Linked DNA regions of Homo sapiens. The protein of the gene in region 1 interacts with the protein of each later gene in a pairwise test. Each region holds a gene or a part of one and is shown on either strand. Other genes may lie near its edges.

Region 1 (3,572 bases):
CAAACAGTGGATCAACAGAGGCAGAAAGTGCTAAGAACAAACAGTGGATCAATAGAGGCAGAAAGTGCTCAGTGTAGTAGATGATCAGTCTGTAATACATAAGAATACTGAGTTCTTATATTTTACAAAGGAAACAACAAACTTGATTGGGGTCAGGCAAGAAAGGCAGGCAGCATCCCCCAGCAGCAGGCTGGAATACAGTTGTGGGGAGATGCAGATCACACGACCAGGTAGCCAGGAAGGTAATGGCATGAAATTTCACTCAGGATTCCACTTAGGGTTCAGACCCAGAGAGGCTGGCATTAAAGGAAGGGTGCTACCCTTACTCTCTATGAGGACAAGAGTTGTAACTTGGGCTCTGAAGAAAGGAAACAAGGCAATTTATGGGGAAAATTGATGTACACGGCACAGGCTCTCTTAAGGGAAATGAGACACAAGGCAAACAACCTAGATTTGGAAAACCAGAGTACCAAGACAAGAGGGGCTAGTTACAAGCAACCCAATGGCAGTAGTCGGCAGGCTAAAAAACAGTCTCTTTCTTTTCAATCTCTTCCTCTGAAAAGCATGACAAGTTCCAAGGCCTGGAACCATACCATATCTACAAAAGCTGTTCAAGTGACCCTCCCTATAAGAAGTGTAGAAATGGGAAATTAAGCAAGCCATTGTAGGTCTTGAGTAATCATATCTGGGCTAAGAGTTTTATTCTCTTTCAAGTTGATACCAAGATTACCAAAGAAATCATCCTAAATTTGAAGTATTTCTGGACACAAAAGGCTGTTTTGGTCTGGGTTTTAGAGAACTCTGCAAACTTATGTAAACCTGGATCCTGGGGCAGCCCCAAGTCAGATCTAGTCTCCTGGGTCTCCCTTATGTCCTTGGTGACTTGTGGACAGTCCATATCCTCAGTCATATTCAAGAACTACTGGCTTCCCATAGAAAAACTTAGCCCTTCACCAAATTCGATATCTTATCTTCTGGAAATTCCATTTTCTGGCAAAGCAGGATTAATTTCTATGAAGATTTTTCTTCATAAATCTTGGAAAAGTGATGCCAATTCACCTCTGTTTGGCTATAATTTAAAAGACAACATTCTTAAAATATGACTGAGATTAAAATATATCTATGAAACTGTTTTGAAACATCTTGTAACCAGTTTAAGAGCAAAGCTATTTAGGTAATGTTTTTTAATTATTATGACAAATATGAGTTCTGAGAAGACTAGAACTGAATTTGGTGTCTGTCTGAAAATGAACACCAATTAATGTAATTCATAACTCATTATTAAAAAGGGAAAATTACAGGCTGGTCCTATGCCAGACTCATTAATTACCATCGTGTCTTTCCTTCTTTATCAGGAACTTGTACTTTGCCTTCTATGGAAGACATGATGAATGATATTAATGAGAAAATGGAGAAAAAGCGCAAATGGTAAGAGTACCTATTGTAATAGGAGTGTAGGATTTCCATAGAAAAGTGAGAATTTATGAATGCTTGGAACTGTTTTAATCTTAAATTATCCTGAATGACATCATTGGAATGACAACTACAAGCTATATTCATCCATTCAACAAATATTAATTGAAGACCTACGTTGCTTCTGACATTGTATTAAGTTCTTTTTAGTACAAGGCACAGAGTAAATAATAGGATTGAGAATCTACATTACATAGACAGTTTTAGCCCTCCATGCCTCCTGTAATATATATCATAGAAAGGAGACCCAGAAAGGATTTGAAATCAGAGGAGTTTGGGAACACATGGATGTGGACTTCCATTCTCTAGCCCATAAATTCTCTAAGATGTAGAGGATATTTCAAAGGTATACCTCTAATGAAAATGACTCAGAAAAGTGAGAATGAATCTGGAGAACTGGGCTCCATTTCTAGTTGTCACTAATTAGCTCAGTGGCCATGAACTATTATAGAAGGGTCATTTGAGCAAGAGGCAATCTATCCATTTGTAAATAAGGATAAAAAATGTCTTTCTCAGCTGCATTGCAGTGTTGGGGTATTTCCAAATGAAACCATATGAAAGTTCTTTAAAAAAACCACAAAGTAGGATAAACAAATGACATTCTCCTTATACAAGAAATTGATGTTGTATGTCAGGGTAGTGTGGGAAATTTTTTTAGAAAGAGAGAGAGATTGATGTTAATTCTCACTGATATAAAGTTGCGAGCCATTTTCTCTGTTCTGTTTCTACACAGAGTTTGGGTATCCACAGTGGTGTTTTCTCTCCCATCTCCAGGTTTGGCAAAAGCGAGACCATACAGACAGATTACATTGTTTATATGGATGAACTCTCCTCCTTCATTGGGGCAAAGCCCAACATCCCATGGCTGTTTCTCACAGATCCCAAATTGGCCATGGAAGTTTATTTTGGCCCTTGTAGTCCCTACCAGTTTAGGCTGGTGGGCCCAGGGCAGTGGCCAGGAGCCAGAAATGCCATACTGACCCAGTGGGACCGGTCGTTGAAACCCATGCAGACACGAGTGGTCGGGAGACTTCAGAAGCCTTGCTTCTTTTTCCATTGGCTGAAGCTCTTTGCAATTCCTATTCTGTTAATCGCTGTTTTCCTTGTGTTGACCTAATCATCATTTTCTCTAGGATTTCTGAAAGTTACTGACAATACCCAGACAGGGGCTTTGCTATTTAAAAATTAAAATTTTCACACCACCTGCTTTTCTATTCAGCATCTTTTGCAGTACTCTGTAGACATTAGTCAGTAATACAGTGTTATTTCTAGGCTCTGAAATAGCCACTTTAAGAATCATGTCATGATCTTAAGAGAGCACTAATCATTTCTGTTTGAGTTCCACTAACACTTCAAAATCAGAACTATGTTCTTTATATCTAACTTAAATCATTTCCTGAAACATTTTGACATGATTCCTTTTTCCTTTTAAACAATGTATGAAAGATGTATTTTAAATCTAAATAAAGAGCAAATTAAGCAGAATAATTATAATATGATACTCTCAGGCTACTTCTATAAGCTATTTGCAGGGTCAAGGGGGGAGCTTGGCTATTACATTATTTTTCATTTGTTTGTTTTGTGCAACATAATCCAGGTAAGACCTCCTCTTCTCTGCCCAAGAAACATAGCATAAAGACCTGGTCTATATTGAAAGTTAACACAAAGTAATTTGTTTTATTTATATTCTCAATAAGGAAACAAACTTTTCAACTTCTAGCAGCAAAAGAATAATAGCAATAGCAATGAGTGTAGTACCAAATAATACACCTTTTAGCTTAATCTTTTAAAAATTAAATATTTAGCCAAAACTGTGACCAAAATCTAATGCTTATAGATTAAAGATTTATAGTCTTATATAGTCTACCCCAATAAACTTACGAGGTACCAGAATAAATCTAAAACTGTATTTTATAGTGTATTACATTTTATAGTTAAAATTTTCATAATTATGATTTTTAAATTTTGACATTATAGAGCAGATAAAATCACCTGCCAGAATCATCAGTCATCAGAGGGCTCCACCAGTTAGTTATTATACTACGTATTTCTTACTAAACCTTCCCTTCCAACTTAGATCAATGGAACAAATATATATG
Region 2 (4,671 bases), on another chromosome or scaffold:
TTCCACAGCACTCCTGGTCCTCTCTCCCAGCACTTTCCTCTTTTAACCTCATTAATACATAGGGAGTTATTTTTCAGAGGTGGTATACCTCTTTGGTGTACCTGACATACCCAGTGTGTATTTCTTTTTGGATGGTAATGATTTGCATACTTGTTTGTTTTTTTCACTGGATCAGCAACTTTTTGAAGGTAAAGACTGTGTCTTACTCATTGTTTTATCTCCTTTGTCCAGGATATAGTGAGCCCTCAGTAAATGTTTGCTGAATTAAGGACTCACTCCACCACCACCACTAATTCTGTCACCTTTTTGATAGGGAGGCTCAGTTACCTGTTCATCTCTGTATTCCCCTCAGTGCTCAGCCCTGTAGACAGTCGTGACATAGTTTTAACTAAATGCTGAAATGTTGAGTAGGGGGAAAGAAAGAGCCATCTTATTATTATTATAGTTAGCAAAATTTTTCTGTAAAGAGCCAGGTAGTAAATATTTTTGTCTTTATGGATGGCTGTACATTCTTTGTTTTTGTGTTTATAACCATTTAAAAATGTAAAAAGCATTCTTACCTTACAATACAAAAACAGGTTGAAGCACAGGTATTGCCTGGGACATGACTGCAGGTTTTAGGGCAGGAAGGAAGAGGCAGCATGTGCCGGTTCCTCAGCGGCCAGCCCTGCTTTCATTTCCTCTCTGGGTCCTCTGCCTTCTTTCCTGAAAACACTGCCCAGCGCATGCCATTTTTGGGGAGCCACTCTACTGTTAAATTAGTTCATTTTGTTGTTGTGACTATACCCACATTTACTTAAAGAACCTCTGGAGAGGCAGGAAAGTCAAGACCAAGAACTCTGCTTGAATGAAACGGATGATTCCTTTAGGGAGTGTCCAGCAGAGTGGCTAACAAGGAACTGCCCTTCTTCTTTTGTCCAAGAAGAATTTTAAACTTCAGAGCCATGAAAATGAGCAATTATGCAAATTCGAGTATATTTTGAGTAAAAAGAGATTGGATGCTGTGGATGGTAACTTCTCATGTCAGTTTATTCTTATGATAAACTTTGTGATGTTTGGTTATGGTAATATCTGATTTCTAGCTCCTGCTGTGGTTTTCAAAGAGAATAGAAAACAAATGTAGCATGATCTCTGAGGGCTTGTTAGGAAGGAGTCTGGATGCTAGTTTCTTCCGTGGTGTGCTCACTGGCTGTCATTCCCTGTATGTATTTCTCCTTCTGCAAATGAGGCCAGTAGTGTTGCAGAGAGAGAAGCTATTCTCTAGGTTCAGCTATTCAAGGAGTAAAACAAAGTAGATCTTTGCCCACCGGCTTGCTGCTAACCTTTATGAACTTCGGACTTTGGAAAATGCATATCAGCAGAGTTGGGTTAAATATGTCATTAAAATAGGTTATTGGCTGGGTGCTGTGGTGTGTGCCTATAGTCCCAGCTACTCAGGAGGCTGAAGTGGGAGGATCACTTGAGCCCAGGAGTTCTGGTCTGTAGTGTGTTATGCTGATCGGATGTCCGCACTAAGTTCAGCATCAATATGGTGACCTCTTTGAGCAGGAGATCACCAGGTTGCCTAAGGAATGGTGAACTAGTACAGGTTGGAAACAGCAGGACAAAACTTTCATGCTGATCAGTAGTGGAATGGTGCTTGTGAATAGCCACTGCACTCTAGCCTGGGCAACACAGCAAGACCCCATCTCTAAAGAAAATGTTATTGACTTTTGTTTTATATATTTGTGTATATGCAAAAAATACTCTACAAAATATACATAACTTCAGAAAAGTTATGTATAACTTATGTTTGGTATTTATGAATATTCTATTAATTTTTTGTGCAGGTGTTTTGACAATAGCTCATATCTGTTATAGAACTATGAATTAAACTTAATAGTTATTTGTATTATTAAAATATACTAAAAGTGATCATTATTATTTGTATAATATAATATGAAATCATTTAGTCCAGTGGTTCTCAAAGTGTAGCCTCTTGATCGGTAGCATCAGCATCACCTGGGTACTAGGAACTTGCTAGAATGCAGATTCCTGGGGCCCAACAGTTGATGCTTTATCAAGCCCTGCAGAAGATTCTGGTACTAGCCAGGGTTTGAGAACCACTGGTTTAAACCTTAATTAAGAGGTTCTTATATTTTTCCTGTGAATGTGCTAGTAAACTTTAATGTTGCCAAAATGTGCTAAACAGCTGAAAACTGGGTCTGATATCAACAAACGACTTATTTAGCTTTTTGTTTCTTAATATCAACAGGTGACACTTGGACAGAAACACTGGCCTATGTGCTCTTCTGGGGAGTTGCAAGCATTGGAACATTTTTTATCATTCTTTACAATGGCAAAGATTTTGTCGATGCTCCCAGACTGGTCCAGAAAGAAAAGATAGACTGAATTTGTATTTGTGGAAAGCGGCTTGGCTTGGAAGATTCCATTGTGCAGAACTGGAGTCTTTACTGACCCGCTTTCCACATCAGCCCAAGGTCTTTTTAATGCCTTTATCCAAAAGCACATCTTGTGCTCCATGCAGGATGATGACAGAATTGATCTGATGTTACTGCCTTGATGGTCTCTTTACTATTGGGACAGTTAGATTTATAATTTGAAGCTATTCTGTAATTAAAATATAACCTGAATTCAGCTTGCAGAATGGAAGCTGAATCTGTTCATTGTATTCTATTGATTGTCAATTTAATTAGCTGTTGCAGAATAAGTAATATATTTTAAAAACCTAGCTCCTTTCATTATTTAAAACAGCAAAATTATTTTTGTAGCTCAGTTTCATTATTGTCATTGTAGAAGCGGTCACTATTAGCAGGCATACTTTTCCACACATCTTTGGACTTTTCTTAAAAGTTCAGTAATAAGCTAACTGTGTTTATAAAATGTAAGTCTCTTACAGACATCAAGTAGTTTGATGAGACAGTCTGTGACTTCATGATAGGAAAGAGGAGGATGAGGTCTGGGGTTCTTTAAAGTCTCTGGTGGGCTGCCTCATGACTTTAATCAGCTTGAACTGCCAGTGCACCAGCAGTTTAGGTGTGATGAGAGAATTCAGATATACTTTATCTTTTTAAAAAAGTGTAAATAAAATCAAAGAATGTAAAGTCTATCTCTTACGCTAGAGGTCCAAAGCTGCCTCTGTTTTAAAGATTATCCCAATGTGGAAGATGCCCATGACTGGTCAGCTACTTCCTCCTATACATTTTGGTTTCTTTGAGGGTCACTCATTGAGACACGCAGGCCTCTGAGAGGGTCTTGTTCTAGATTTCATATTGCACTTGGAGGGTAACAGCTGCTTTTTCACGCATGGTACTCTTGATGTTTTTCACTCTGTCAAGGATTTTGTTGGCTATCAATGAATGTGTCTAAAACTTAGTGCTTCCAGGTAGTTATAGTACTCCAAATCAAGGACCAACTTAAACGTTAATTTTTGTGCAAAAACAAACCTGAAAAATATGCTTCGGAAACTGTGCATAGTTCTAATTGTAAGTCAGATTGTATATTCAAATTGTAATTAAGAGATTTAAATATTAGAACGGTATGTAAGGTAGTATAATTACCACTATTTTAAATAATTCAGTTAAACACTGCTGCAATATTTCAGTGTTGTGCTTGAAAATATGTACAGTTTTTTTCCAATATTAATACCTTATGTTGTCCTTAAATATTTCTAAAAGCGCCTTTATTTCAGCATTACCTTTTTTTCATCACTATCTTTTATAAAACATTAATATAAGTCGTTACTTTTAGAAACTAAAGGAAATAATAGCTGGAAAACCCTCTGTAGTTTAAAATCAGTCATTAAACTCACAATAGGGTAAGTAAATATAGCCACCTGTTAACATGTAAATAAGCATAATTTGTTCCAAAGATGGAATATTGAAACTTAGTTCATGTCTGCTGTAAAATATTATTTAAATGCTGCTGGGCATTTCACTTAAAGAACTTAATGTCAACAGCTACAACAAAGACCAAATCTGAACTGCTAATGTGGCTGCTTTGTAGGGAATGGACTAATATCAGTGTGTTAGATCTTAAGGTATCAGTATTTCAGAATCCTGCGACGATTTTATTTCTAAATTCATGTACTGTATGTCCATAAGTGAAAATAAAATGTCATATTCTTTTCTATTATTGGTATCATTCATGTACTTTGAAAGTGATGTTTTTCTTTTTGATCTTAGAATGCTAAAAATCATGCAAAATGATAGACGGTTTGGCTCTGTGTCCCCACCCACCCAAATCTCATCTCAAATTGTAATCCCTACGTGTTGAGGGAGGTACCTGGTGGGAGGTGGTTGGATCATGGGGGATGGTTTCCCCCATGCTGTTTTCATGAGTTTGCACGAGGTCTGATGGTTTAAAAGTGTTTGGCATTTACCCCCTTGCTCGCTCACTTTCCTGCCACCGTGTTAAGATGTGCTTTGCTTTCCCTTCACCTTCTGCCATGATGAAGTTTTGTGAGGCCTCCCCAGCCATGCGGAACTGTGAGTCAAACCTCTTTTCTTTATATGTTACCCAGTCTCAGGTAGTTCTTTACAGCAGTGTGAAGACAAATTAATACACAAAGCAATGCATGATCATCATAGAAAAATTAGAGTAAGCAAGAAAATCAGTAGCTTCTGCAATTTTGCTTTCCAGTTATGATCACTTAAGAAATTTTGTATCTCC

Evidence for each region.
Region 2: the proteins of FMO3 (region 1) and SACM1L interact in binary tests that used the Homo sapiens proteins (3 or more experiments, as listed by UniProt).

The regions. Positions count from the first base shown.
Region 1 is NC_000001.11:171,114,853-171,118,424, forward strand, and holds the end of FMO3 (flavin-containing monooxygenase 3), read left to right. Parts: intron 1-1,355; coding exon 1,356-1,428; intron 1,429-2,247; coding exon 2,248-2,590; 3' UTR 2,591-2,967; downstream 2,968-3,572. UniProt on the Homo sapiens protein: Essential hepatic enzyme that catalyzes the oxygenation of a wide variety of nitrogen- and sulfur-containing compounds including drugs as well as dietary compounds.
Region 2 is NC_000003.12:45,741,279-45,745,949, forward strand, and holds the end of SACM1L (phosphatidylinositol-3-phosphatase SAC1), read left to right. Parts: intron 1-2,254; coding exon 2,255-2,391; coding exon of another isoform or gene 2,392-2,457; 3' UTR 2,458-4,131; downstream 4,132-4,671.